Homo sapiens: one gene and its partners. The protein of the gene in region 6 purifies or fractionates together with the protein of the main gene of each other region. This does not show direct contact. Each region holds a gene or a part of one and is shown on either strand. Other genes may lie near its edges. The genes, in order: HNRNPUL2, ADCYAP1, MYO6, WARS2, TENT4A, RMND5A and WNK1.

The links.
Region 1: the proteins of RMND5A (region 6) and HNRNPUL2 purify together in Homo sapiens (affinity purification with mass spectrometry, with the first as the bait; one large-scale study listed by BioGRID). This does not show direct contact.
Region 2: the proteins of RMND5A (region 6) and ADCYAP1 purify together in Homo sapiens (co-immunoprecipitation; one large-scale study listed by IntAct). This does not show direct contact.
Region 3: the proteins of RMND5A (region 6) and MYO6 purify together in Homo sapiens (affinity purification with mass spectrometry, with the first as the bait; one large-scale study listed by BioGRID). This does not show direct contact.
Region 4: the proteins of RMND5A (region 6) and WARS2 purify together in Homo sapiens (affinity purification with mass spectrometry; 3 studies listed by BioGRID and IntAct, with this or other methods). This does not show direct contact.
Region 5: the proteins of RMND5A (region 6) and TENT4A purify together in Homo sapiens (affinity purification with mass spectrometry; 3 studies listed by BioGRID and IntAct, with this or other methods). This does not show direct contact.
Region 7: the proteins of RMND5A (region 6) and WNK1 purify together in Homo sapiens (affinity purification with western blotting; 2 studies listed by BioGRID, with this or other methods). This does not show direct contact.

Annotation. Positions count from the first base shown.
Region 1 is NC_000011.10:62,720,498-62,724,861, forward strand, and holds part of HNRNPUL2 (heterogeneous nuclear ribonucleoprotein U-like protein 2), read right to left. Parts: intron 3,930-4,364; coding exon 3,794-3,929; intron 3,494-3,793; coding exon 3,417-3,493; intron 3,230-3,416; coding exon 3,090-3,229; intron 2,407-3,089; coding exon 2,316-2,406; intron 2,217-2,315; coding exon 2,104-2,216; intron 1,884-2,103; coding exon 1,620-1,883; intron 1,446-1,619; coding exon 1,323-1,445; intron 927-1,322; coding exon 798-926; intron 1-797.
Region 2 is NC_000018.10:909,936-913,200, forward strand, and holds the end of ADCYAP1 (pituitary adenylate cyclase-activating polypeptide preproprotein), read left to right. Parts: 3' UTR 1-2,237; downstream 2,238-3,265. UniProt on the Homo sapiens protein: PACAP is a neuropeptide involved in diverse array of physiological processes through activating the PACAP subfamily of class B1 G protein-coupled receptors: VIP receptor 1 (VIPR1), VIP receptor 2 (VIPR2), and PACAP type I receptor (ADCYAP1R1).
Region 3 is NC_000006.12:75,888,739-75,892,238, forward strand, and holds part of MYO6 (unconventional myosin-VI), read left to right. Parts: intron 1-1,318; coding exon 1,319-1,527; intron 1,528-2,489; coding exon 2,490-2,568; intron 2,569-3,500. UniProt on the Homo sapiens protein: Myosins are actin-based motor molecules with ATPase activity. Unconventional myosins serve in intracellular movements. Myosin 6 is a reverse-direction motor protein that moves towards the minus-end of actin filaments.
Region 4 is NC_000001.11:119,074,299-119,078,662, forward strand, and holds part of WARS2 (tryptophan--tRNA ligase, mitochondrial isoform 1 precursor), read right to left. Parts: intron 2,310-4,364; coding exon 2,052-2,309; intron 1-2,051. UniProt on the Homo sapiens protein: Catalyzes the attachment of tryptophan to tRNA(Trp) in a two-step reaction: tryptophan is first activated by ATP to form Trp-AMP and then transferred to the acceptor end of tRNA(Trp).
Region 5 is NC_000005.10:6,711,759-6,716,679, reverse strand, and holds the start of TENT4A (terminal nucleotidyltransferase 4A), read right to left. Parts: upstream 3,249-4,921; 5' UTR 2,697-3,248; coding exon 1,981-2,696; intron 1,932-1,980; exon of another isoform or gene 1,561-1,931; intron 1,539-1,560; exon of another isoform or gene 1-1,538. UniProt on the Homo sapiens protein: Terminal nucleotidyltransferase that catalyzes preferentially the transfer of ATP and GTP on RNA 3' poly(A) tail creating a heterogeneous 3' poly(A) tail leading to mRNAs stabilization by protecting mRNAs from active deadenylation.
Region 6 is NC_000002.12:86,754,465-86,758,828, forward strand, and holds part of RMND5A (E3 ubiquitin-protein transferase RMND5A), read left to right. Parts: intron 1-4,364.
Region 7 is NC_000012.12:902,512-906,875, forward strand, and holds part of WNK1 (serine/threonine-protein kinase WNK1), read left to right. Parts: intron 1-4,364. UniProt on the Homo sapiens protein: Serine/threonine-protein kinase component of the WNK1-SPAK/OSR1 kinase cascade, which acts as a key regulator of blood pressure and regulatory volume increase by promoting ion influx.

The DNA of each region.
Region 1 (4,364 bases), on a different chromosome or scaffold from region 6:
CACGCCACTGTACTCCAGCCTGGGTGGCGGCTGAGCAAGATTCCATCTCAAAAAAAAAAAAAAAAAAAAAAAAAAAAGGCCGGGCGTGACAGCTCACGCCTATAATCCTGTTATCCCAGCACTTTGGGAGGCTGAGGCAGGTAGATCATGAGGTCAGGAGATCAAGAGCATCCTGGCTAACACGATGAAACCCTGTCTCTACTAAAAATACAAAAAATTAGCCAGGCATGGTGGCGGGCACCTGTAGTCCCAGCTACTCGGGAGGCTGAGGCAGGAAAATAGCATGAACCTACGAGGCTGAGCTTGCAGTGAGCCGAGATAGCGCCACTGCACTCCAGCCTGGGCGACAGAGCGAGACTCGGTCTCAAAAAAAAAAAAAAAAAAAAAAAAGACTCAGTATCTTTGACAACTTAGACACGAGATAAAGGGTCAATACACATGATCTTCTTTAACTTTTCAAACTACATGACAGGTATTATCCTGTTTTGCTCATCAGGGAAACTGAGGTTCAGAAAGGATAAGGGACTTATCCAAGATCACAAACCAGAATGTGGTGGAGCCAGGAATTCAAATGAGTTCCAACTCTTTCCATTGTCTTTATTACATGTTTTATAGCCTGGGTCCATATATTTTCAAGTAAAAACACTAATTAGGGGTACCTCTGAGTTCAAAAAACATTGCAACCATAACACACAACCAGATGGTCATAATTAGGTAAGCTGACTCTGCTCCTTAATTCAGTCTCTCTTTATATACACATCCCACCTTGACTCTAGGCAATTTTATCAGATTAATACCTGATCAAGAATAAAGTTCCTCTTTGTCCGGGAAGCAATCTGGACCAGCTTACTAAGGCACTGGGAGGCTTGCTGAACTAAAAGGTCTCGGCTTTTGGGGTCCATCTCTGGCTCCTCGAGACCCTTCATCTGATTAGTTTGAGAGGAAGTGAAAAAAAAAAACAAAACACAAGTTATATTGCAAGTTAAAGCCCAAGAGTTATTGGTAAATGTCACCTCTTCAAATACTGAATCTATGATATCACTCTATTCCCATTCTTCAGTGCTGTGAATGTTGTCCATTTCCTGCAGTAGTCATTTCTATCTAGTCTTAACCTGGATGTATTTCAGATCTCATCTGCTTTCAGAAATTTGACAACACAGCAAAGAAAAAAAAAATCAATCCACCTAAAACGCATAGAGAAAAATCTCATTTCTCTATTTCTGGGACCCTTGTTCTCAGACACTTGAGACTAATTCTCCATTAAAGATAGGTTATAAGAGTCTCCAAATACTGTATCCGACAAATCCCCAACAGCAACTTACCCTCATTTGATTGAGCACAGTCTCAGCTCCCAGGACATTGTATCTTTTCTCAGGGTTTTCTTTTGCATATTTCAGTGCCCACTGGGTCTTTCCAGATCCGGGTAGTCCCACCATCAGAATCACCTGCAAAAAACAGAACCAGAAATATAATGAAAAATAAATGAGGGTCATGTTTATCAAAACCAATTTAAGAACATCCTCCCATTCCTGTTTGGTAACGCTCTGAGACCCTGGAGAGCATACGCACCCACCTCTGCAAAGCATACAACCTCAGTGTTCGTATACTGTTTGGCATACCTCACATTCCTCTATGGTCTTGGGAGGGACTGCAGTGCGTACACGCTCCTCAACAGGCACAGCATGAATGAACACAAACTCTTCTGGTGGTGGGAAGAAGGGCTCCTCCTTCTGACCGAAGTTTAATTCTACAACACAATTTTTGCAGAGGACATGGGGTAGAAGGGCCCGGTCTGCCAGGGAATCCTTGCTGATCCAGAATGCCACACCTAGGTCTTCTCCATTCTTGGAGAAGGAAAGTTCTACTTCTTCAGTCTCAAAATTCTACAATGACAAGGGACAAGAGCACTTATTGGCTGACGAGGCTTTGGGTTGATTAAACTTTACAATTTATTCTTTTTTCACACAGACTGCTGCACAAAGTAACTAAGCGAGCCACACACATCACATGCATAAAAGCCAGCAGTTGATGGGAAGCACAAGTGAATTCCCAGTGCCCTCTATCCGCTCCTTGTTATAACCCACAACTTTCAGGAGCACTTACAGCAAAGCAGCCAATAACATCATTCTCCCCAAAAGTCTGGCCAAATTCCTCAAATTGTCCATTTTCTGCCTTGAGTCCTCGTCCATCGAAACCGTAAGAGAATTCATCTTCACCTAGAACAGTCAACAAATTAGTTACCTACAACCGGACTTCCCATAGAGTAAGCAATATGGTAGTAAACACTAATGAGGAACTTAAAGAAATAACTTTACCAAGCTGTGGACGGGAAAAATCAACAGACCACCCAACTCGAAGGAGAGAGACCTCTGTGCAGCCTTCTTTCATTGGGAGATTCTGGGTTACCTGGCCAAGTCAGAAAGGGAACTATTAGATATTGTGACCAACTGAGTAGCAAACTCTGAGTTCGAAGGACAAGATTTTTATACAAACTGAAAACGACATTTACCTCAACTCAACATCAGAATAACAATCACTGAACTTAAAGCCACAGGGATCAATTTCTTGGTTACTGAAACTAAGGTTCTTGTTAAAGCACAGTGCTTTTACCTACCTGCACTAATAAAAGCCTGATTGGACAGAAGTCCAGTATACATAGGTAGTAGCTTAATGAATAAATGAACGGTCTTTTTAAAAAAATATTTCTTCCCCAGCCAGGTGCGGTAGCTCATGCCTGTAATCCCAGCACTTTGGGAGGCCAAGACGGGCGGATCACCTGAGGTCGGGAGTTCAAGACCAGCCCGACCAACATGGAGAAACCCCATCTCTACTAAGAATACAAAATTAGCCAGGTGTGGTGGCGCATGCCTGTAATCCCAGCTCCTCGGGAGGCTGAGGCAGGAGAATCGCTTCAACCCAGGAGGCAGAGGCTGTGGTGAGCCGAGATGGTGCCACTGGACTCCAGCCTGGGTAACAAGAGCGAAACTCCATCTCAAAAAAAAAGAGATAATAATCTTCTTTTCCCCCTCTAAGAACCGTAAGCATCCAGTAATAAATGAATGAATGAATGAATGGTCTTAATGAGCTACCTTTGCCTCAAAGCAGACTTTTCCCTTTGTCACTCCGTAAGTACTCCTTGCCCCAGACCAAAGGGTGGGGAACTTCTCTGAGAAAAGTGGCTGCCCTCCATAGCGGTCTTTGCTCACTTGAAAATGCAGATCCGAGGTATCTGTAAAGAAAGAAGCAATCAGTTTACTCCAATGTCCAATACTTGTAAGCCGCCAACAGAGCATAAGTATACCAGTTGTTGTAGTGGATACAAAGTCTCATAGAATTTATAGGCTATGAAGTTTTAATCTCCAAAATCACTTTTAGGAGATTAGTTAAAAACCACAGTCTGTCTGCCTTATACATACACGTGTCCAGGTTCACAAGAGTTTGATCCTCCTCCTCATCTTTTGCCTCTTCTTCAGGAGGCAGTGGAGACTTTGAGCTATATATGTAAGATAGAAAAGAAACACAATGTAAACAAAGCCCTCTTCTTTGAGGGGTGTGTGTGTATGACATTATGTCCATTTTAAACTGTCAGTGAATATCAAATCCCAGCAGACAGCTTTTTCCAATAAATGAGAAAGGGCAATAGGAGTTTCCATGGTAGATGCAATCTAAAACTCATGCCTATAAAAACCTATTCCATTTTGAATCCACCCTCCTTCCAGTCTCTCCAGTCAATACCAGGTATACCAAAATCAGAGCAGACACTCCCTTCAACGAAAGGGACTGTTTCCCTCACCGGCTGTGGTAAGCCTCCTCTCGGAATTCATAGTAAGCTCGGCCATGTTCATCCTTCTCATCCCGCTGTCTCTTTACCCCCCGCCGCTCACCATCTGAGCCTGCTGGTTTTGACTTTTCACTATCCTGGTCATCTCCTACAAAAACGAGGGAAAGAAAATCAGCAGTTTTCATACTGGAGTGTAGAATAAGCTCACAACTAATAGACACTAACAGGGAATCTGAGAATCTGTCTGATCAAAACAGCCAGGTTATTCCCACTACATTCACATAACATTTTATTTCTAAAGATCAGCTTTCTGTCATTGGCTGTGATTTAATTTTTTTAAAAAGGGGCATTATGGGCTAATTACAGTCAAGCACTAGATAAAAATTGGACAATTTTTGCATTCTAAATTTATCCACTTAAATCAGGTCAAACTTGCAGATTTCCCCATCAATATGACATAAAAAATATCCTCTAGGTCTCTAAGAAAACCTCAAAGGTTAATTTAATTTTGACTCTTGTCAGATCTAGATTTAAGGTAGGCAGTTAGTACATATTTTGTAACACTTTTCCACACCTTCATGAT
Region 2 (3,265 bases), on a different chromosome or scaffold from region 6:
GCACAAGGATTGAAAATTCGCCCGAGCTGTTTATGTTTTTATAAAAATAAATAGAAAAGTAGACAATCATTGTTTTGAATATTACTCCTATTTTTGTAAACTGGAATTAAAAGGATAGTATTTTTATCCATGACAGGCCTGAAGATATTACTACTTACCATTTGCTACTGTACATAAACAATGATGCCCTGCTCCAGGGAGATTTTGAGGTAAAGATATGGAGAATTGCTGAAGGGCATTCTTTCCCAGTGAGTCTCTGGGGCAGGCTGCTTCAATCCCAGCCTAACTCAACTGGGCTCTGTCCCCCTGGTTGGGTGGCAATTCCAATATTTCTGCTTTCTTTGATTCTCCTTTTATGTGTAGTTGTCTCTCTTCAGACTCTCAGCCCAGAAGAAAATTCTCCTGATAAAACAACAGCTCGATCCAAATTGTGCTTCTCCCCAGAATTCACGCCTCTCCCTAGGAGAAGAGTTGAGGAACTGTACAGAAAAGGGCGGCTTCGTTAGACCGCTCTCTTTTCTGTACTTCCTGAGTGGCCAGGGAATCTAATATCCCCAAATTAGGGCAATTGGAACAAAGTGAAGGACATAGAGGTATATTGGAAGAGGCAGAGCCTGAGGTGGTAGGAGGAGGACCCTGGAAATGGACTGGTTTGAGATTGCCCCAGGTCTGGGAAGCTGAGGGCAAATCCAGTCCCAATGGTCCTGACTTTGGGCGCTGGGTATTGGAAATGGATGCAAAGTACAATGTGTTTTTCTCCAGTGCTGTCCATGCTTCTCATCTTGTGAAATGGCCAGGATCCTCTCCTTTGAAACCTGCTCTGTAGGAGCTACCCTTTTCCTTTGTGGTTTTATGGAGACCTCTCCTTCCTACCCTCCTGCACTGTTTAAGTACTGTTTACCATTTTTCATTCACTTCTCTTAAACTTGTGAATGCTTCTCACTTTTTTTTTTTGTTTGATGCAGGCACTTATTGTAAATTTTAGAAACCCCTCTGTAGCCACTAGTAAGTAATTATGCACTAAATATGAACCCTTTGTTTCTTGTTTATTGAGTTTGTAGGTAAAATGTATTTTTCTACATTATTGCTTATTGCTTAGTAAAATTTATTTCATAAAACCAACCTTTGTCATATTAGAATGTGTAGTGTTCACATGTTGCTCAGTTTTGCTAACTGATAAATCATTTAATCCTCTTCTTCATATGTATGAGTACTATCTTATATCTGTGGTCAAGAGTGAGGTAAGCAAGCTCCAACAGACCCTGAGAACCTACGCTTGTATCCTTTCTTTGGCTAAAGAAAGCATGTCTGTTTCCTGTCAATTCTTTGAACATACAGAGTAATCTTTATAAACAAAAGAACCTTCACCCAGCAATCAGATCGAGCAGCAACAGACAAACCAGCCAGCCAATCTCCCAAATTTCAGGCACAAGTTTATTTATTTATTTTTTTATGTTTTGAAAAAAGAAGATGAAGAAGAAGAAAAAAAAAAGAACAAGGAAAGATTAAACGTTAGCTTGTAAAGTTTAAAGGACCTTTCCTTTTCCTTTACGGATTTGATCAGTATGAAGTCATAAATCAAAGAAAACAGAATTGGATTTGCATTCCCAGGCGGGATGGATGCTGCCAGGAGATCACATTGCAAATAGTGAAAACAGAGGCATTCGGTCTATGCCTGAGTCCTGTGTATAGGATCAATCTTCCTTTAATTCCGCAGTCTCCTCAGGCAATGTGACACGGGATGCAGTTTGCAGCTTTAGTGCCTTTCTTCGCCTTTTAAATTGCCACGAATCACAGATGGCTATTTAGTGGCCCTACAATGCTGCAACACATCAGCTTGCATTTTAGTCTTAATTATTTGTTTCTTGGATAATGGGCAGAGTTTTCTGTATTTGTATCAGCTGTTAGTGGTGAAATAGGGCTCTAGTTAACCTTTTATTTATGAAGTCTAATTTAGTGTTCCCGTGGCTAGTTGCAAGCATTTTACAGTGATCACCCAGTTTAATCTTTTGTATACTTTTTAGAAATGCCAAGAGCCTTACTAAACTGAAGCAGATTTATGATATAGTGATAATTTAGGTAGATGTTAGTCTTGAAGCTCTTATTTTGTGTGCAACTGATTATAAAAACACCTTAACCAAGTATTATTACACACATGATATCTATAACTAGGACTTTGATAACTGTTATATAAAGTGTGTAAAATTTGTATGAATAAATTTTTGTAAACAATGCAACTTGGTCTAATGTTTGGGAAAAAAGACATTCAGGAAATAATTACTTTAAAATCTCTTAAAGTATTATATTTCTTTAGCAACCATAAGATTTTTTTACGTCTGGAATATATATCTATCTAAGCACCCTTGTATTTTCATGAACTGCACTTTAATAATTGATGGGCAACTGGATTCTGCTAAAAATTTAAAGTAGCTACTCAGATGGAGATGCCTAAGAAGGTTTTAAGCTCATAAACAGGCATGATGTTGCAACATTATAAGACACACAATTTAGATTAATTTCCATCCCCTAGTGTGTATATACTTTGCTCAATATTCAGAAAGTTACTAGGTAGTAGTGGGAGACAATGCTGGAGCATTAGTTACACATCTAAAATAGCAATCTAACATTGTTCTTTTATTTTTTATTTTAGTGGCCAGGTCTCACTATGTTGCCCAGGCTGGTCTTGCTCAAGCGATCCTCCCACCTCAGCCTCCCAAAGTGCTGGGATTACAGGCGTGAGCCACCACACCCAGCCTAAAATAGGGATCTAACATTGTTCTTATACAAGTAACTCTGCAGACTAAACTTGTCTTGATAAAATTTTGTATAAAATGATCTAAATAATCAGTTTTTGGAGGTTTTAAAATGTGTTTAGAGACATACAAACTACTGTCTCTGATTAAAATGCTTTAGGTAGAAGGAACGTGAACATGAGTAAGTAAAGAGTTAATTAGATGCCTTTAAAAGAAAATGTACTTTGAAGTCCAGGAAGAAACACAAGAAGTCATTTGTGGATTGTATGCTTTCTTAGTTCATATTTACAAACTTTAGGGCAAAGCTTTCATACGAAATTCCTTCAAATTCCGTAGTGGTGTGTGTTTTGGCACCTTTGACTATTTCTGGCTTAGAAAATGTATAGAAAGTCACACAATAATTGACATACCATTTAATTTAAAATGCCAGGGTTTCATCCTAAAAATTAATGGTCTCAATTAGTAAATCAATAAATATGTTACGATAGAATTAAAGGATGAGTGAGGATTCT
Region 3 (3,500 bases), on a different chromosome or scaffold from region 6:
ATACATTTTTACAGTTCTTATCATAATATACATTTCAATTTCTATCTCTACCATTGTTATATACTTGTCCATGTTAATACATTATCTTCATAGATACGATAATGTAATTAATTTTGTGAAAATAGCAATTTCCTCTCCAATTTTGTAGGAAAAAAATGGGATCCCTTATTTTGTTTTGATTTTTATTTATTTGATTACTAGTGGAGTTGAAGACTTTTCTATATGCTTGTTAATTATATTTCATATTTCATTAATTACATTTCATATCTTCTCATTATATTTTAGAGTTTTAATGCTTTTTCTCAGTTTCATAGGTCAGTGCAAGTATGTGGGATATAATGAATATCTTAAAGTGAGCGTTTTATATTTTCTGCAGATATTTTATGTAAACAATGGCAATCTTGGAGGTAGAAAGGAAAAAAAAGATCTGGAGGAAAATGAAAATGCTATAAATAGACTCAGCTGATTTTATAAATCTGTCAAGGGCCATCTTTGTTTATGTGGTATCATTATAAATTAAAATTAACCCACCCACATTTTTTGAAGGCTAATTTTAGAAATCCAATAATTTTGGATATATTTTGTAATTTTTAAAATATTCTCTAGGTACTATTTGAACATTATTCTAAAATAGTAGTAAACTATTGCTAAATTAGCTGATCATTACTTAAGAAATAATTCTTTTTGAGATAAGAGGCTTGCTCTGTTGCCCAGTCTGGAGTGCAGTGGCATGATCTCGGTTCACTGTAACCTCCGCCTCCCGGGTTCAAGCAATTCTCCTGCCTCAGCCTCCCGAGTAGCTGGGACTACAGGTGTGTACCACCATGCCCAGCTAATTTTTGTATTTTATTTTTATAAGAGACAGGGTTTCACTATGTTGGCCAGGCTGGTCTCGAACTCCTGACCTCAGGTGATCTGTCCACCTTGGCCTCCCAAAGGGCTGGGATTATAGGTGTGAGCCACTGCACCCGGCCTAGAAATAATTTTTAACTGCAGTATATTACCTTATCCACAGATTACCTGTCTAATTGATGTGTAATACTTGTGTGCAGAGATAACATAAAACATTTTTTGAATAGTATTTAATGTACAAACAGTATAGTAAAGATAACGGACGTATTGCTTACCATCTTACCTAGTTTTTGCTGTATTTGCATATTGGAGTAGTTTTTTATTTTAAATTGTAAAAAACAATAAAAACATTAAAATTTATCTTAGCCATTTTTCAGTTTATAATTCAGTATTGTTAAGTATATTCACATTGTTGTGCAACAGAAGAAATAAGCTTTTACGTACCTATTTATTTTATTTTTTAAAGTCCACTATGATGACGCAGGAACAAATCCAGAAAGAATATGATGCACTGGTTAAAAGCTCAGAGGAACTCCTCAGTGCATTACAGAAAAAAAAACAGCAGGAAGAGGAAGCAGAAAGGCTGAGGCGTATTCAAGAAGAAATGGAAAAGGAAAGAAAAAGACGTGAAGAAGACGAAAAACGTCGAAGAAAGGAAGAGGAGGAAAGGCGGATGTGAGGCATTTATATTATTTTGAATAAGAGACTTAAAGAAATAGTGAATTCTTGGTATTGACAGTGGTTAATGACAATTATTTGTTTTGTTTTGTTTTTGTGACAGGGTCTTGCTCTGTTGCCCAGGCTGGAGTGCAGTGGCGCGATCTTGGCTTACTGCACTCTGCCTCTCGGGTTCAATCGATTTTCCTGCCTCAGCCTCCTGAGTAGCTGGGATTACAGGTGCGCACCACCACGCCTGGCTAATTTTTGTATTTGTAGTGGAGACGGGGTTTCACTATGTTGGCCAGGCTGGTCTCAAACTCCTGACCACAGGGGATCCACCCGCCTCGGCCTCCCAAAGCGCTTGGATTACAGGCGTGAGCCACCGTGCTCGGTTGACAATTCTTAAAACTGTGTTCTTATTTTAATGAACTAATTTTGTAATAAGTTTGAAAATTGAGAGAATAAGGTCATTTTATAATAGTGATACCATAAAATAATTTTAACTATAATCTGAATTTGTTAGCCTCTTACACCTGAGGATTTTCTTCTTTTTAAAACTATGATTTGTTTATTGTTTTCTAAGCTAGATAAATGACACTTCTACTTTTCTGCAGTTTTAAAACTGATAACATTTTGAAAGATTGCCATGATAGGGTAGAGAGAACAGATGAGTTGTTGACTTGGAGAGGGACTAGAGGGAAGCACCTTTAATCAGGACCTTACAGCCAGGCTTTGTAACCACATTCATCTAGAGATGTTAAAAGTTATAGAATATAATTATATTTGTTTTATTTAAGAATTATTGTCAATAGAGTTAAATTTTATTTTATTCAAAATAAGTTGATGTATGTGGCCAGGAGGTTAATTTGCATTCCCAATCTGTTACCTTTGTTTATTATTAAATAATAGTTAAATTGCCTTCTGAAGGATTCTTTATTTTCTGTTAAATTTTTGAAGAGTTTTCTATTTTTTATTAGGAAACTTGAGATGGAAGCAAAGAGAAAACAAGAAGAAGAAGAGAGAAAGAAAAGGGAAGATGATGAAAAACGCATTCAAGTATGTACTTACTGGGTTGAATTTCTATTAAAATGGAACCTACAGGCTGGGTGTGGTGGCTCATGCCTGTAATCCCAGCTCTTTGGGAGGCCGAGGCGGGCGGATCACGAGGTCAGGAGATCAAGACCATCCTGGCTAACATGGTGAAACCCCATCTCTACTTATACGAAAACAAATTAGCCGGACATGGTGGTGGGCACCTGTAGCCCCAGCTAATTGGGAGGTTGAGGCAGGAGAATGATGTGAACCCAGGAGGCAGAGCTTGCAGTGAGCCAAGATGACACCACTGCACTCCAGCCTGGGCAACAGAGCGAGACTCCATCTCAAAAAAAATAAAAAATAAAAAATAAATAAAATAAAATGGAACCTATGAAAGAAGTGAAAATGAGATCTTGATTTGCTAGATAAGCTGTCACTAGTTTATCCTAGAGACCAAAGGCCAGTTTTTGAAGTGGTTATGGGAATGGACTTTGGAGCTAGGGAAGTGGGTTCAAATCCAAGATCAGTCACTGACAGAAATTGTGACATTGTACACATTATAGTGAGGAACTATGGGTCACAGTTGTCTCTCTGTAGAATGTGGATAAATAATAGTTGCAAGCATTTGACAGTTAATACATGTTAAAGCATTGTGAACACTGTGTAGATCAATAAATATTAATAATTGTTTTTATACCTAGGGGAAAGTCAAATGAAAATTCACTTAAAATGTTAAGTTTTAAAATATCATATAACTTTGTAGATACTGGAATTAATAAATTAGGATTAAGAGTCTCTCTCCACCCCTAGTTTTTAAAAAGTCCCATGTTGAGAATAAATTGCTCATGTATTTGAATTTCTGTTTGTCATGGCTTTCATAATATATCCTAAGCATAACCAAAACTTTAAATTCCTGACATCTGCTCTCTAGGTGTTAGTGTTAATGGGATGCC
Region 4 (4,364 bases), on a different chromosome or scaffold from region 6:
AGACCTATACAGTAAGGACCTACGGGGTAAGATACAAATGGTACATAATAAATGTCTTTCCAAGTATTTGAAGAGCAGTTGTGTGGAAACAGAGTTGATTTATTGTTTTTTACAGAGCAGAAATTAAATGAATGAATGGAAACTATATGGAGGTAGATATTTGGTCAGTAAAAGCAAGTATTTTATAGTAACTGGATCTGTCCAACGCTGAATTTGAAAAGTCATGTGTAAGCAAAGCCTTCCTGACCAACTATAAGGAATGAAGTTGAGGTAAATTGACTTTATGGTCCTTTTAAAGATCAGATTCTATTATTTTATCAAATTATCTACAAGCTGGCAACAAAGTTGATAACTGCATTTATTTTTTAAACATACAGTTGGCCCTCTGAATTTGTGTGTTCTGCATCCATGGACTCAACCAAACAGCAGATTGAAAATATTAGGAAAAAACAACTAATAAAAATAACACCGCCACTATATATACACTATGGAATACTACACAGTCATAACAAGGAATGAAATCATGTCTTTTGCAGCAACATGGAGGCCAACATGAAATACAGGCCATTACCCTAAGTGAAATCATTCAGAAACAGAAAATCAAATATTGCATGTTCTCACTTATAAGTGGGAACTAAACAATAGGTACACATGGACATATAGAGAGAAATGGCAGACACTAGAGACTCCAAAAGCCAGGAAGAGGATGTTGGTTGAAAAATCACCTATTGAGTACAATGTTCACTATTTGGGTGACAGGTACACTAAAAGCTCAGACTTCACCACTACACAACATATCCATGTGACAAAACTGCACATACACCTTCCTAATCTCTAAAAATTTAAAAAATTAGTGTATATATATACATATATATGAAATCAGTGTGTATTTAGGCATCAAAAAATAACAATACCACGATAGAAAAATAATACAAATTAAAAAACAATACAGTATAACAACTATTTGCATAGCATTTATATTGTATTAGGTTATTATAAGTAATGTAGAGATGGTTTAAAGTATACGAGAGAGTATGTGTAGGTTATATGCAAATATGATTCCATTTTATATAAGGAACTTGAGCATCTGCAGATTTTGGTAGCTTTGGTGGTCCTGGAGCCAACACTCTTTGGATGCCAAGGGATCATTATACTCTTTTCGTTTATCACATATTTTTTAACTGTCTGCTCTGTAAGAATCATTACATTAAGTTTTATGTATAACAAAACATATATAAAAATAATGATAGAAATGTACAATCAAGGAAGGTTGCATATATACATGCATGTTAACATGTACCATAGCATGTATAACATACCATTCCTTGGCTGGGCTTTGTCCTAAGGTTAAAGCAGATACATAATGAAGGCATGATCTAGTTAGAATTTTCATCTTTTTCTAGGGTGTATCTTGATTGCCTTGTCTCTAGGCCAGACTATCGGCCTGTCCAAGAATAAACTGATTCATCCATAGTGAAGATATGAGTCAAATATTTTGGCTTTACTATGAAGCCTTTCTTGGCTTAGACACAACACACTGGGACTTTGTCTTCCAATTTCCCAACTTGTGCTATCAAATCTTCTCAAAAACTATTATAAAAAGAATGAACAATGGGAATCATCCAACAGACCTTCTAAATAGAACATCTAATAAAGCAACATTGGAATTACATAAAACTATTGGTCACTAACTTCTATCCTTGATCACAAGGAGATTAGTCAACAACACAAAGTAATCAGTTTGAAAGCAACCCAGCATAGCAAAACAATTCCAGGGCTAGAAGTACTAATGAAACACAATTCTTGGTATATGAAGCATCATAAACTTACCGAATACAGTGGAGGAAAAGCTGAAAAATACTCTTGCAATATAATGATACTTAATGATATAAATACAAGTAAAACATTAAGCTGAAAAAAATCACATTTGAAAAAGTCACCTTCAAACACTTTTTAAAAATCACGAGCAGGGGCTGTATGAACCATTCAACATTTTTTCCTCAAATAATCTACACATAAGAGTTTTCTCAGTTCTAATCTGAGAAGCTGACCTGAGATTGTTGGAAAAGGATGCTTTTTTCCGGGTTTATGCCACAGGCAAGAAGAACAGCAGTCATGTCCAGGATGCTCTGCCGAAGGACAGCTGGGTCTTGGGGGACAGTAATGGAGTGGAGGTCAACAATGCTGTATAATACAGAGTCATATTCATCCTGTAACCTCACCCAGCTCTCAATGGCTCCCAGGTAATTGCCCAGGTGGAGGATTCCTGTAGGTTGAATGCCGGAAAATACTCGCTTCTTGCTGTCTTTCTGGAACAAAGGAAAACAAGCATATTTGCTTTTGAGGCAGAATCCCATGAATCCTATGCCCATGTTATCATAGCTATGGGAGCTAGTTATATTTTTGTAAACTACAATCTGACAGTCATCATCATCCATTTATTTTGTGCCTACACTGTAAATCACTATGCTAGGTGCTACTAGGCACAAAAAAATGATATTAAAAATGTTTTTGCACTCAAACATGGACAAATGCAAAGACATATAAGAAAAGATCTGCAGCCGGGCGTGGTGGCTCGTGCCTGTAATCCCGACACTTTGGGAGGCTGAAGAGGGTGGATCACCTGAGATCAGGAGTTTGGGACCAGCCTGGCCAACATGGTGAAACCCCGTCTCTACTAAAAATACAAAAATCACCTGGGCGTGGTGGTACACCTTTAATGCCAGCTACTCCGGAGGCTGAGGTGGGAGAATTGCTTGAACCTGGGAGGTGGAGGCTGCAGTGAGCCAAGATTGCACCACTGCACTCTAGCCTAGGCAACAGAGCGAGACCCCGTCTCAAAAAAAAAAAGGAAAAGATCTGCATCCCCAAGAGCATGTGATCTAATTGGAGATAGAGGGTATTGTTTATGAAAAGATAAGTAAAGGTATAACATGGTAACATGATCATGACCAGTTTGGAATGATACAGAATAGGGTTCAGAGAGGAATTCCCAAGAGGAAAAGATAACTGAGGTTTGGTGGTCAACGAGGAAGCCTTCAGACATAGAATGAAATTTCACTGGAGATTAAAGGGGCCTCAAGGGTTTTTCATGTCATTTAATTTATTTTGCAGTTAAGGAAATGAAGGCCTTAGCATTAGTGCTAAAGGCTACTACTATTGCCTTAAGATTTTTTTATATTGTTGATATTATAATTTGGTGTATGAGATCTTGGGCTAGAAATTAGAAAACATACACTCTATTTCTAATATTACTTCTTAATAAGGTTATTTACATTTTCTATGCCTTGGTTTCCTTTTACTTTTAATAAAATCATATTTGGGTTTTCAATTCTTCAAAAGGAAATTTTAATTCTACATAATTATTTAAATTATAAAAAGCATTTTTACTCTGGTCATATTTTCCCTTTGGTTTGTACTTTCTAATACTGAAGTCATAATAGGAAAATGAAAAGAAAAAAAATGCAATACAAAGTAAAAAAAATTGCTATTTTTCCCCTGAATTATTTTATAATACATTCCATAGTGAAAAACCAAAAATGAGTATGTATCAATAAATATACTGTAACTAAAAGGCCCTGAGAAAATATAATGCATCATTATCATTTTTAACCACCACCACAGCAAAACAATAGCAGCAATAATTTACTGAACAACTATGTTGCAAGCATTTATGCCCAGTGCTTTACATATATTAATGCATTTAATCATTTTAATACCTAATATGGTAGGCATATTATTACCTCCAGTTTATAGATGAGAGACGTGAGGCTCACAGATTTAACTAGATTGCCCATGGTCACACAGCTAGTAAGTGGTGGAGTTGAGGTTTCAGGCCAGATATCACTGACTTCAAAGCCCATGTATGCTCTCTCTACTAGCTACTATGCTTTGCTTAGCTACCATCTATTAAGACTTTATTATATTCATTGTATTAATTTTGCAACTTTTCAGTCAGTTTAAAAATTTGCAAAATAAAAAATTACAGGGACAAAAAAGACCATTATTATACAGGTATCTTAATGTATTATGAGCCAAGTTTCTCTAGTGTATATATCTAGGAGTAGAATTGCCGAGTCATAAGGTATGTATACGTATCTTCAATTGTAGTACTTCAATATAGTGAACTATTCCTAAGTATGTAACATTATACACTTTCTACCAAGTTCCTGTTGTTCCATATCCTCATCAACACTTGGTATTAGCAGTCTTTTTATTTTTAGCTAATCTGATGGAAATGAGGTAGAATCTCATTATGGTTTAACTCTCTTTGATTATTAAAGAAGTTGGGAACTCTTTTTATGATTACTACCTATTTTTACCTCCTATTCTATGAAGAGCCTATTTAAATTATTTTGCCTGTT
Region 5 (4,921 bases), on a different chromosome or scaffold from region 6:
GGAGGTGTTGCTGAGTTTTAGGCTTTAGTCTTTAATGTGGGGGATTGGAGATGGGGGAGGTGACATCACAGGGTGAAGGGGAATCTGACCAGACCTGCTGGCAGAGAAGATTGCCCCATTACCTGTGATGGGAAAGGACTCAAGCAGGACCAGAGTGCATCAAAGGCACCTCCGGCTGCTTGAGCAATCTCCACAGAAGTAACAAGAGCCTGCATGAGGGAGGATGAGGTGTGGAGAGATTAAAAGGGCCAAACGAACAGCATGTGATGAGAGACTGGACGTGGGTGACGAAGAGCGTGAGAGGGGACCTGCACAACTGAGCAGGGTACTCTTGTGCTCTAGGCAGGGGGCACTTGCAGGCAGGTTTCAGGGTGGGTCAAGATCATGAGACTGTGTCTCCCATGCCGTCCCTGCCCCAGATCCCCAGATCCTAGCACAGCACCTGATCCTAGTGGGCTCATTCACTAACAAAAGCAACACCACCTACTGAGCCTGACTAGAGTTACCTGGAGGAAACAGCTCGGGGAGCCCAAGTGAGGTGCATGGGACCTGATGCGCTACCACTTTCTAAGAGCAGAGGTACAACCCAAGACTGGCAGAGACCACGTGTCTTCCTGTTTTTTCTAGTGCTAAGAGAAACGGAGTCCATTCCAGTTACATAACAGGCTGGAAACCTAAAGGTCCTCCCCAAGCGAGCCCTTAGGTATATATTGCTATTCATCAAGAAGAAACTGCTCCCAACCACCTGCTCTCAGAAAGTTCTACAGGTAAGAACTGGAGGGAGAGAAGAGGAGTCTGCGCTCCTGCCGGCGTCTGCACTGCATGTTTACACTTCGGGAAATTTAGAAGGTATCGCTTGTAGCCCAAGCCAGGTGAAATAAGTTACAGAACATGCAGCTATTACAGTGTATCACACGCTTTAAAGAAGTATCAACTCGTGTTTCCCAACATACTTCAAATGAGAAAAAGAGTTACAAGCAAAAGTTTACTATAAGAACTCCCAACACCTAGCAATTGTGGTTATTTGTAGGACTCTACTGCATGCAACAACCCTCATACCCCAGCAAATCCTTAATTGTTTTTTAAATTGGGGGGAAAAATTGTGCAAGGAAAAATTATCATTTAAGTCTTAAAATACTGACATACAACCTACACATAAATTGCTTCCAGACGCTCAGAAAAGCCCAAAATGGCAAAGGGGCTGCGTCAACAGCATCACACCTGAACAGCCTCACCTGGGACAATTCCAACCCCGAAACACACACCACCTTTCGTTTCATTCCTTGCCGTCTGTAAGTGCACTAAATTTAAGTAGAGCCTCTAATTCCCTCTAGGCGGATGTAGAAATATTTAAAATAAAAATGGCACCTTCCAAAGAATAGACATATATGACAAATCTGGTTTTTTCTTTGAATTAAGCCAATGTTTATAAACCATAGGCGATGCTTATGGTAATTGCAGCACAAAATTAAAGGACACAACACCCCCCAAAAAATGAATCACCTCTAAGTTGACAGTTAAATTTTTTTAAAAAATGAAATTAAAAAGGTTAATATTTACCTTCGACGTGATTCGAGTTCCTGGCAATGCTAAATTATTCTGCAACTTAACTTACGTGAAACTCCACACTTATCTACGCCCCACTTTGACAAGGGGTTCCTCACTTGCCCGGAGGCGGGGTGGAGGGGTAGAGAGTCGATTTCCCGTTCCAATCTCAAGAGTAAAAAAGACAAATACCTGCAGGTCCTACCCAGCAGCCCCTTTTCTTGGACTGTTACTTGTAGGATCTGGGCAAGTCACTCCACGATAAATGAGTCTGATGTTTAAAAAAAAAACTTTCAGTGCAGAGTCGGGCCTTGGCCTTAGCCTTCAACATCCATCCTCCAAAAGCCCGGGCGCCTGGGACGGGTGTCTGCACCGCGGGCGCCGGCCAGGACCATGGGCCCCGCCCCCGCCCCCGCGGCCTCCCCGCGCACTCACCCCTGGATGCCCGGGCTGTACGCGCGGCTCTTCCACGGGGTGCCGGGCCGCGGCGCCTGGGCCCCGGGGCCGCCCCCTCCGCTGAGAGCGGCCGCGCGGCTGCCGGACAGCAGGTAGTTGAGGCCGTAGGTGCTGGCCTTGTTCTCGCGTTTCCGGCGACCCGGGTGGAACTGGTGCTGCGACGGGGAGCCGGCGGGCGCGGGGCCGCGCGGCCCGGGGTGCCCGTTGGCTGTGCCAGGGGCGCTGGGCGCGCCGTCGGCGAAGTTGAAGAAGGCGCCGCCGCGGCCGCCGCCCGGCCGGCCCAGCGAGGCGCTGCTGGAGGACGACGACGAGCAGCCGGGGCTCTCGGTGCCCGACTCCGCGTTGGACGAGGAGGACGACGACGAGGACGACAGCGACGGCGACTTGTGCAAGCGCCGCGCGCCCTCGGCCGCGGGCCCCAGCGCCGTCAGCAGCGCGGGGGGCAGCGCGGCGGGCGCGGTGGGGCCGGGCGGCGGGGGCGACGCGGCGGGCAGCGCGGGGCCCAGGCCGCCACTGCCCCGCCCGGCCGCCCCCGCCGCGGCCGCCGTGTCCAGCGCCGGCGAGTTGAGGCAGAAATAGGACGCGAAGCCCGAGCCGCCGCGGCCCACGCCCTGCGAGGTCTCCCAGATCTGCATCCACAGGGCATTGGCCGGCCCCTTCTGCTCGGGCTGGATCCAGGCCACGCGCGGATCCATCCACGCGCCGCCCCCGCGGGGCCCGCGCGCCCGCCCGCCCCGACGCGGCCCCGCCCCCGCCGCGCCCCGAGGCCCGGCCGCGCGCGCACGGACGGACGGACGGGCCTGGGCCGGTGGCGGCGGCGGCGGCGGCGGCGGCGGGCGGGCCGAGCCCCGGCCTCCTGCTCTAGCCGCGCTCCCGTCGGGCTCCGGCGTGGGGCGGCGGCGGCGGTGATGGGCCCCGGCAGGCCGCGGCGGGCGGCTCCGGCGCTTGGCGCGTCCCAGCGGGCGGCTGCGGTCTCCGGGCTCCCGCTTCACGCGGCGCGGGGCGGGCGCGGGGGCCGCGGCGGCGGCGGCGTTCCACTCGGGCCGCGGGGAGAGGCCATCGGAGAAGGGCGGGCGGCGGGGCCGAGGGGGCGGGCCCAGGCGCCGAGCGGCTGAAGGACCCGCGGGAGGCGCCGCCGCCCGTGCGGCTAGCCCTCAGTCACGCTCGCGCCGCTGGCTCGGCGCTCCTGCGGCGGCGGCGGCGGCGGCGGTGAAAAGACACTCTCGGCGGCGACAGCGCGGGGGAAGGAGGGGGCCGCCGCCGCGTCCGCTCCAATGAGGGGCGGGGGAGGGGGCGGGGACGGGGGCGGCAGGAGGAAGCGCGGCCTCGGTCGCCGGGCCGTGTCGCCGGTGCGCACGCGCGACCGATTTCAAATCCTCACTAGACACTGCCGCCGTGGTTACCGCGCCTGCGCGTTGGGGCCCCGTCGGCCGCGGGCGGGGTGAGGACGGCGTCAGAAGCTACGCGACTGGGAGGGGCTGGAGGGAGAGGCGGTGGCGTTGAGCCATTACTGACTAGGCCGGCGTTGGGTGGAATAGGCAGCGGCTGGAAGGCCCGCACGCCGCCCTCGGCCCGCCGCGGCGCGCAGACCCCGGCGTGCAGACATGCGCGCTAGGGCCGGTGTCACCGGGCTGCCGCCTGAGCCGCGCTGCGCGTGCGCAGGGCAGCGTGGCCGTCACCGCCGCCGGTGGAAGTTTCCGAGCAGCCGGGCGGGGGCAGCGGACGCCACCGCAGGCGCTTCCCCCGCCGGCCGGCCCTCCCTCCTGACGTAAGGGCGGGCCCCGGTCGCAGATCCCGCCCCAGGTCTCTCATCCGAGGGTCCGTGCAGCAGGTCACGCTGCGCTCTCTGGGGTCCGCGCGTCGGCCCACGTGCTCCCTGCACCTCGCGGGGTGAGCGGCCAGCGTGCCGTGCCGGGTGGCTGGCTCCGCCGCTCCGGAGCCGGGAAGGACACGCGGCAGAGTCCTGCTCCCTAGCGGGTCTGCTTACAGGCGTTTGGTTTGCTTTTTAAAATGATTTTCTATGCGAAAAGTGAAGTGAAAACTTCCAAGTTAATTCCCTGGGCAAAATGGGCAGTGCTAGCCGAGGAACGGCTGGTGGGCGGCGCGTCCGGCCCCCGGCTTCGGTTTTTCCAGCTGCACCGAGCGGGCAGGAGTCAGTGGGAAACCGCCCGCCATCCACAGCCTGCCGTTTGCCATCCCGGTGTCCCGAGCGCGATGGAAGCCGGGTTGACAGTGGCACTGTTTGGAATACAGCGCCAACCACACATCCTGTGAGGTCCAAAGCAAACGCCAGTGTCGTTGATCATCGCGGTGCCCCGCGAGCCTGGGCGACGTGAGGCCCCGCGGCTGCCGCCCTGTCTTCAGGCGGAGTCCCCGCAAATGCACTCCCGGGCCAGGGCCCTGAAGCTGCCTTAGCCCAGTGGCGCCCGGGCTCCAAGCCTTTTAAGTAGAACGGGACCTGGCCTTCGTACAGGCGTGTTGTAAATGCTACCCCCTCGTCTCCAGCACAGATGAGTAGACATTACTAAGCACTTGACCCTTCAAACATCGCCCCAACAGGAAAGGTCCGTGTGTTGCATACAAAGGCTTTGGGGCAAGTGGTGGTGGTTAGTAATGAAAATGAATGTTTCAGACGTTTTCAAATACCTTCATATTGTACACGTGGAAATCATGACCAAGGATTAGAACGTGCATTCAGTAAACTACAGAAAATCACACACAAGTCAAACGGCCGTTATTCTGGAGCTGTTTGCTTCCAATGGCTCAGTCCAAAATCCTTGGTCATGCCTGGCTCCTCTCTCTGTCCACAATGAACACATCCTCTTGGCTCCACTGCCCGAAACAACCAGAACCCAACTGCTACCCCTCCTCCTCCCTCCACCCCTCTTTCCCCGCCACCCGTCCATTTTAAAGCAGTGCC
Region 6 (4,364 bases):
CTGGGAAGTTGACTTTTATAAAATGTACACTTTTTCCCTTAAAATTTAGTTCCACTAACCCATTTAATTCTTCATAGCTTAGTTTTTTCTTTCTAATCATTTCTCAGTTCTTTCTCCTTTTTGAGACAGGGTCTCACTGTCACCCAGGCTAGAGTGCAGTGGCATAATCATGGCTCACTCCAGCCCCAACCCCCCAACCTCCCGCCTTAGCCTCCTGAGTAGTTGGGACTACAGGACTGTGCCGTTATGCCCAGCTAATTAAAAAAAATTTTTTTTTGTAGAGACAGGATCTCACTATGTTACCCAGGCTGGTTTCGAACTCCTGAGCTCAAGTGATTCTCCCACCTCGGCTTCCCAAAGTGCTGGAATTACAGACTTGAGCCTCTGTACTTGGCCATTTCTCAGTTCTGAGAAAATTTTGTGTAGTTCTAAAACCAGCCCAGATGACTAGACAGAAATTCCTGTATAAATTTATATAAAATTCTTGTATAAATTATAATAGATCTCACTTAAGAACTGTATCTCTGTGTAAGATGCATATTACCTTTGTAGAATTTGTTTAAGCAAATTTCAGATTGTGACACATCTGGGAGATAAATTCAACCAAATACCTCTAACACCTCTTAAACAAAATATGGCAACAACTACTTTTTTTTTTTTTTTTCCCAAAGAGACAGAGTCTTGCTCTGTGGCCCAGGCTAGAGTGCAGTGGGATGATCATAGCTCACTGCACACTCTCAAACTCCTGGGCTTAAGTAATCCTCCTGCCCCGGCCTCCTGAGTAGCTAAGACTACAGGTGCACACCACCACACCTGGCTAATTTTTAAATATTTTATAGAGACAGGATTTCTCTATGTCGCTCAGGCTGGTCTCAAACTTCTGGCCTCAAGTGATCCTCCTGGAGCGTCAGCTGCCCGAAGTACTGGGATTATAGGCATGGGCCAATGTGCCCGAGAAAGCCTACATACATATATGAACATGTAATGGGTTTCCCAGTTGTTTTATAGTGATTAGCAAATAATATTTGGGTTGTTATTCAAGGTAATATTCACTTATCTATGCGTTTCTTAGGTTTTTTCATTAAACTTTGTTCATATGTGCTAGTCATGTACGTACTATGACTATATCTGTAGTCACTGGCACATAGTATTTGCTACCTTAGCCTTCAGAGTACTCCAGACTTTTCTCCTAAGAGCCTTTTAAACTTTGTGCGTATATAAGATATGTTTCTTATTGATAAGCATGTTATGTATATTGATTATTTCTGTAAATTTTGTCTATTATTTGTTGCCTTAAAACAATTCCTCTCAGGCAGAGAGAGGACTTGTTCCATAAGTAAAAATTTTCTCATTTCATGTTTCTGGGAGTAGTGTTTAATATCAGCATGAGGGAATGTAGTGGTAATCATAGTTAACTCTGCTTGAGTGGTTATTGTATGCCTAGCATCGTTCTAAGCATTTTACGTGTCTTAACCTATTCAACCCTCATATTAACCTATGAGGTAAGTCATCTTACAGAGAAGCAATTAGGGCCTAGAAGATCCTCTGTGAAAAAAAGTCAAAAGATTATATGAGAAATGCTTTACATAATAGTCCCCCAGTATTCTCATTTGAGGTTCATTTTAACTTATTAAGTGTATCATCAAGCCAGGTGCAGTGGCTCACACCTGTAAGCCCAGCACTTTGGGAAGCTGAGGTGGGCAGATCGCTTGAGCCCAGGAGTTCGAGACCAGCCTGGGCAACATAGCAAAACCCTATCTCTACAAAAAAATAGAAAAATTAGCTGGGTATGGTGGTGTACGCCTGTAGTCTGAACTACTCAGGAGGCTGAAATGGGAGGATCACTTGAGCCCAGGAGGCGGAGTCTGCAGTGAACCAAGACCACACCACCACTCCAGAGCCGAATCCTGTCTCAAAAAATAAGAAAATAAATAGAAGTAAAAACGTACCATCAGTAATCCTACAGTAAAGAAACTCATTTAACTTGGTATAACCCAGTGTTTTCTCTGTGTATTTGACCAATCTTGTTTTCCCTCCAGATAACACATTTAAAACCCATAAAATTGGAGTTATACAAAACATAAGATTTAATAGAAATCGTCATTACAACAATTCAGATTTTTCCAATTCTTGCCTATTGTGGGTGCAGAGCAGATACTGACTAAGCATCTTTCATGAGCTAGGTACAGAAAATTCCCTTTACTCAACTTACAGCAAAAGTTGAATGATATGGGACTCCAATTTGGGGAATTCTAGTTAAGGTACAAGGCGGGAGATATCTGCCAGTTATGCAGCATCCCATTTGTTCCTGCTGGGAAGGATATCATGGAGCTCACAAGGGAAAAGAGGAAGGAGAGGATGCAGCAATTCCTCCAGACTGCCTATGCGGTGAGAAGGCAGAGGCCAGCCAAAAATTTGAGGTGGCTAGGCCGGGCACGGTGGCTCATGCCTGTAATCCCAGCACTTTGGGAGGCCAAGGCGGGCGAATCATCTGAGGTCAGGAGTTCAAGACGAGCCTGACCAACGTGGAGAAACCCCATCTCTATTAAAAATACAAAATTAGCCAGGTATGGTGGCGCATGCCTGTAATCCCAGCTACTCAGGAAGGCTGAGGCAGGAGAATCGCTTGAACCCGGGAGGCGGAGGTTGCGGTGAGCCAAGATCGCGCCACTGCACTCCAGCCTGGGCAACAAGAGTGAAACTCAGTCTCAAAAAAAAAAAAAAAAAAAAAAAAAAAAAAAAAGTGGAGGTGGCTAAAGGCCATTGAGGGCCTAGGGGAATGGTGATATTGTGGAGAGAAGTGGCAGAACAACACCTGATTACATAGATCTAATCAGGACCTTGCCTGCTCCTGTGTTCCGTGCCCTTGTACCTCTGAGTTTGTACAGATTTTCCCCCTCATCCAGATTTCTTTTATGCTCACCCAGATTGTTTTATTTGCTTTTTGAATTTCTCTTGGCGCCTAGAGTAGTGCTTACCTCATAGTAGGCCCTCAATGAATAACAGTAATCTGCAGGAGAATTTAGAGCAAACTTGTCATCCTCTTCCATGGTGGCAGATAGAAAGCCAAAAATAGTGTTAACGAGAGAATAGTAACTTAATACAACGAGGTGGGGGAAATATTAGAAAAAATAGGAACTGTCCTTGTAGCTATGCCATTATTAACATACATATTGAAAGAAAGCACTATCTTTAGGGGAAGCTACTTGGTTGCCTTCCTAAACGTGTCTCAAAGAGTAATACTACCTTGCTGGATTTGCCACAGTCTAGTATCTGACTTTCAGCTTTGCAGACTTGGAAACTTGTTTTTGGTGTCCTTATTTTGTTTTGTTTTCACTAAGAACAGGCCTTTAAAAACGATAAAAACCTGAATTGCTAAGCTGCGTACATAGTTTGGATTATTAGGGGCTGTGAAACAAGCTTGTGGTAGGCAGGTCCATGTGGAAGGCACATGAGCTTGCAAAGCCTGGAGTTGGAACAAGAGGAGATTGTTCTAGAAAATGTTCAAAGTTCTCAGGCTAAAATGTCCTGATGCCATTATGTCCACCATGGAGGTTGTGTTGCAGAGCCGTTGGGCAGTTCAGACTTCATTCACTGACTCCTTTTCTCAAAATTGTCCTTGGCTTGCCTTGGTCGAGTTTTGAGTCAGCATTAAGTATCCCAATAGGTAATAAATAAGAGTACAAAATCAAAAGGCACAACAAGATAAAAATACAGTGAAAAGTAAATCTCCCCACCTTTGCCTTCTAATCACAGTTACTCTCCAAACAGGCAGCCACCATTAACTGTATTATGTATACGTACATTTTTATGCACAAGTGGTTGCATACTATACACAGTGTTCTGCTTTTTACTTGAAAAATTTTGAAGTATTTGCCTATATCAGAGCATATAGAACTATTTTTTTTTTTTGGTGGCTGCTTAGTGTTCTCTTTTAGGGATTATACCTTAATTTTATTTAGCCAGTTCCTATGGATGGACGTTTGTAGTTTCCGATATTTTGCTTTATAAGTGATGCAGCATTGAATATCCGTTGCACATTATTTTGAGCATGCCTGCTAGATATGTTGTCCAATATGGTGACCACTCCTATGTGTAGCTCTTACTAATCTCTGCATTACTGAGAACCTCATGTAAAAGGGTGTGTGTGTGTGTCTTAAATAGAGTCAGATATGCAATACCATAGTTTGTGTGGTTTCTTAAATAGCATGTGAAAAGGACAGAGACTCACACCAACTCTGAGATGAGTTTAATGGTAGTAGTTCCAGCAGTGGACTCAGCCCATAGCTGAAAAATTACCATTTGAAAATATCTAAGAAATGAAACACTGAGTGTTCTTTTCAGTCTCTAAAGCAAAGTTACAG
Region 7 (4,364 bases), on a different chromosome or scaffold from region 6:
CCATAAAATCAAAAGCGGTTTTTAGTTTGGTTATTCTGATAAAGCACTTAGTCTAATAAAGATCAAAGCCCAGCATCTGCAAGTGAAAATTCTCCTTCTAACATGATTTCTGGGATTTTGCAGCTTTCTACTTAAAAACAAGGCACAATAGCAAGTCACCCCATCTTCCCCATATGTGAAATGGAGATGATGCCAGTGTCCTAGGGCCATCGTACAAATCAAGCTAAGATCATGTACAGAGAAACAGGTAGCGCTTGAAAAGCACTCATGGTTTCTCTCTGATGAGTCAGTGCCTACCTGGCACAGAACAGGTAGTCAATAACTGTTCGTGGAAGAACAGTTTAAAACAAACAAAAACATAGTTCAAGTAGAAAAACCTTTGTTATAATTTGAATAAAGATCTTCTCTGTTAAGGCCTCAAACTTCTGATGTGATTATTGAAGTGCTTTTTACATGCATGTGCTCAGGCCATCACTGTTTCTGAGTATGGGTCAGAGGCCCTTGGGCCTCTTCACGGTGGGAAGAATTTACAACCTCCCTTTGTTCTCTGTAGTGACTAGATTTAAAGCGAAGCATATGACACGTTTAACTGCCATTTCCCTCACACATACCCCTGTTATTTTTACCTGCATTAGAAATGGATTGGCTCCTTCCAGCACCCCTATTATTTGTACCTGTATTAGTAATGAGTTAGCTGTACTTGAGAGGCAGTCTTTACTGACTTTCCCCACATGCACTAGTCCCAGGCTGTTTAACAAAGAAGCGGGTGGAAGGCATTACCCAATTCGATCGTTTTCCAGGCTTGTGTGATTTTTTTTTTGAGGACTCAGATCAATAATTTTTCTGGTCAGACTTTCCTGGACTGTGCATATTAGCACTTTGACAGTTGAATAAGCATTTAATTTGCATGTCCACCTAGAAAGTTGCAAGGGGGGTGTTTTTGAAGTAGAATGTGACATGTCAGGCCTATGGTCTACAGCCTGAAGTGTCTGAGAGGGAAGAAAGAGAACCAAAGCTTCTGTTTCTGAAATATAATGTGACAAATACCACTTTAATTAAATTCCATAAATTCTCATCCCACTTTTAAAGGTAGGTGGTATTACCCCTGTTGTTCAAATGAAAGTGGTCAGAAATATTGAATCTTGTCACTTCCCTTTGGGTGCAAAATGAAAGGCCCTACATCCTTAGAAGTCACATCAGGATACATCATGTAAGCCTGGTAAACAAATCCCAAGAGACATACTTGAAATATGGAAAGGAAACAGGTACTTGAAAGAGTAGGGCACCTTACTAGCTTGAGATGTATTATTCTATGCTCTCAAAATAGATAATGGTTTGGAAGCACGGCTTGGCTTACTGCTATATTTATGTTCAGAGGTTGCTTGTTTTCCACGTACTTTTAAAAACTATTCTGGAAGGGAAGGGGTTAGTATATATATGTGGGATGTGGAAATATAATAGCCAATTTAAATGAACTTAAAGCTGTAACAGTGATACTATCAGTCTACTGTGGTGGGGTTGCTAATGCATTTAACTGAGTGCTTTTTAACAGCCCAGCTGGAGAAACAGGAAGTGGGACAGGATCAGTGGAAACGCTGCTTGGGTATTTGAAATTCAAGCAGTGAGACCTGAGAGACTGGAGTTCCTCGCCAATTCCAGAACCTCAGTGCAGGGCATTACTCTTTTAGATACAAAGATTGGGTGTAGAAACTCCACATCTGTCAGCCACGTAACACAGCCCATCAGATAATCATGTTAAGGCTAACAGCCAGTTCGAAACATTCTGTAGAACTATATCTGTTCAAGGGCTACCAGGTCCTACCTATCTGTCTCACCTCCTGCTTTCTCTTGCTGGGCGTTTGTGTGCTGTTTGGAGATTCTAAATATTTTACACTGATGTTTCTTTATCTTTAACACATTGCTTCTCTCTTTGTGCTTCAGGGAAGATGGTGAAAAAAGTCTGTCCTTGCAACCAGCTCTGTAGTAATTATCTTTTCTGTTATTTTTGGTCCTTGATTGCAAAGCCTGTTAACCATGAGTTCTTTCAACTCTGCAGTCTCATAGCTCCCTGATTCCTAACTTCCATCTATCTCTGTATCCTATTCTAATAAATATTTAACATGCTTAATTGAGAAATCATCTCCTAGTCGGTGCCCTCAGTGATAACCCCATGTGAGCCTAGCTTGTGACAGACATGGATTGGTAATGGCCATGGGTATATATAGGGAGGTCAGGGATGCCTAGTTCCTATGGGAGAGCGATCCTTTGGTCAGCAAATATGTGCCGGGCAGTGTTATTACCCCAACTGGAAACTCAGCAGTGACGAAAGCATACAAAAGTCCATGCCCTCCCACGTTCACACTGAAGTGGGAGATGTGTGCTAGATTGACGAGGAGAAAAACACCACTTTCTAGAGTTTGTCTTCTTAGACTGTGGCTTCTCATACTTTAATGAGAAGGCCACTTACAGTGTTGTAGGTAGGGTCAACAGGGAAATTCTGTACTTGGGATGTTGGGCTGTAAGTTATGGTTCATAATAGGTTATTGTTAGTAGGATCTGGTGATGTGGGAATAGGGGAAATGTATTATAATGGCAGGAGGAAATTTAAAAATGAATCTTGGGGGTAAGTCTATACTACTTATTAGGGCTTTTCAGAAGAACTAAAAAAGGTTAAGAAGTTAGCATATTCTCTCAAAGGCCTTTCTACATCTTTTATAGTCAAGTCTCCTTTTCTTAGGAGTTAATTTCTGGTCAGAAAATGATAGGTTTGTTTCATTCTTTAATGGGAGGCCTGTATACAGAAGCCAGAACGTGAAGGTTTAGCTGTATGGTTGACTCTTCCTCATGGTTTCTCTTTCCTCATAGAGAATCCTGTATTAGGTAATGTAGGGTAAAATGAAAAGTGAAATTTCGTTCTAAAGGGGCCTCGCAGCATCAGGGGCGACAGACTAGAGAGGTGTGTCTCCCAGCATGAGCTCTGTGGATAAGCAATGGTCACGCCTCCTGAGCTTCTTGTATTTAGCTTTTGACAGCTCTGCTCCCCTGTGATTATTTCTGTTTTTTGTTTTGATTGTCTCTCACATCAAGCTCACCAAGCAATAATTGTTCAAACAGGATGACAATCCCCATGCATGTGATATGCTTGCTTTCTAGATTGAGTCACTCACTGTCATGACTGCCCATCCTCATTGCCTGTGCTTCCCACTTCACCACTCTCTCACATTGGCTGTTCATGGAAGGCTGTTTTCTGTGCTCTCATGCTTCTCCCCTCGCGTTTCCTGTACTGTAGGGAGCTTACTCTTCCCTTCACACTGTATGTGCAATAGCAATCCCCTTGTGGCTCCAGCAGACACCAAGAAATGAGCTGACACTCACACTGCAGTAGTTCCGTGTCTTGCCATAGCGGTAAGAAGCATGTGACCTTCCTCACTGCAGCTTCACCTCAGAATTAGCTGTTACTGCAGCACAGACCTGCTTGTGTGTGCCATTCCCCAGGTGGTAGGATATAAGCTTGACTTGAGACCAGCGATGGTCAGTAACAGGCTTTGAAGTGGCAGGATTGCGTTAGGTGTGCTGCTGTGATCTGGTGCTGCTTTGACCTTGAAAGCAGGATAACGCATGCACTTACTTACCCCCGCATTACTTGGGTACCTTAAGGACTAGTGGTTCACAACTTACTTTAGGAGCTTTTATTTATTCTGTAACACGTGAGATCTGGTAAGACAGTGGGGGGTAAGGAAAACAGACAAGACCATGACTCTTCTTTCCCTCTTCCCCAAAACGTGCCTCTTGGAATAATCTTCAGTGTGCCCTCCAGCAGAGCCGAAATCAGGCAGGCATAGACTCCCTCCTCTCTCATCAAACCGCAGAAATAGAGTTCCTTCATCATAACCGCAAAGCTTCCTCCTCCCCTTTGCACCCTGCCTCAGCTGCATTTTCTTGTCGCTTCTACATGGGAGTGCTTGCTGTTCTGGGAAGAGTGGGGAGAAGCGGTGGGAATCCTTGAGCCAATTGAAACTGAGGTCATCTTCAGGAAAACCATGTCTTCCTGAAGTTGAAAGATTCAGGCACACCATACAGTCCTTTCCTCATGAATAATCTTGTTCTTTACTCATGGGAAATTGGGAGAGGTTAACCCCTCCCAAGTTTATGTTTGCAAATTCATGTTTATGGGTCCAGGTGAAAAACTTTTCTGAACACAGCATGCTACTTCTCTTATTACCTCTCTCTATTTAAAGAATGGCTAGGCTGAGCATGGTGGCTCACACCTGTAATCCCAGCACTTTGGGAGGCTGACATGGCAGGATTGCCTGAGCCCAGCAGTTCATGACTAAGCAACATATGGAGATTCTGTCTATATAAAA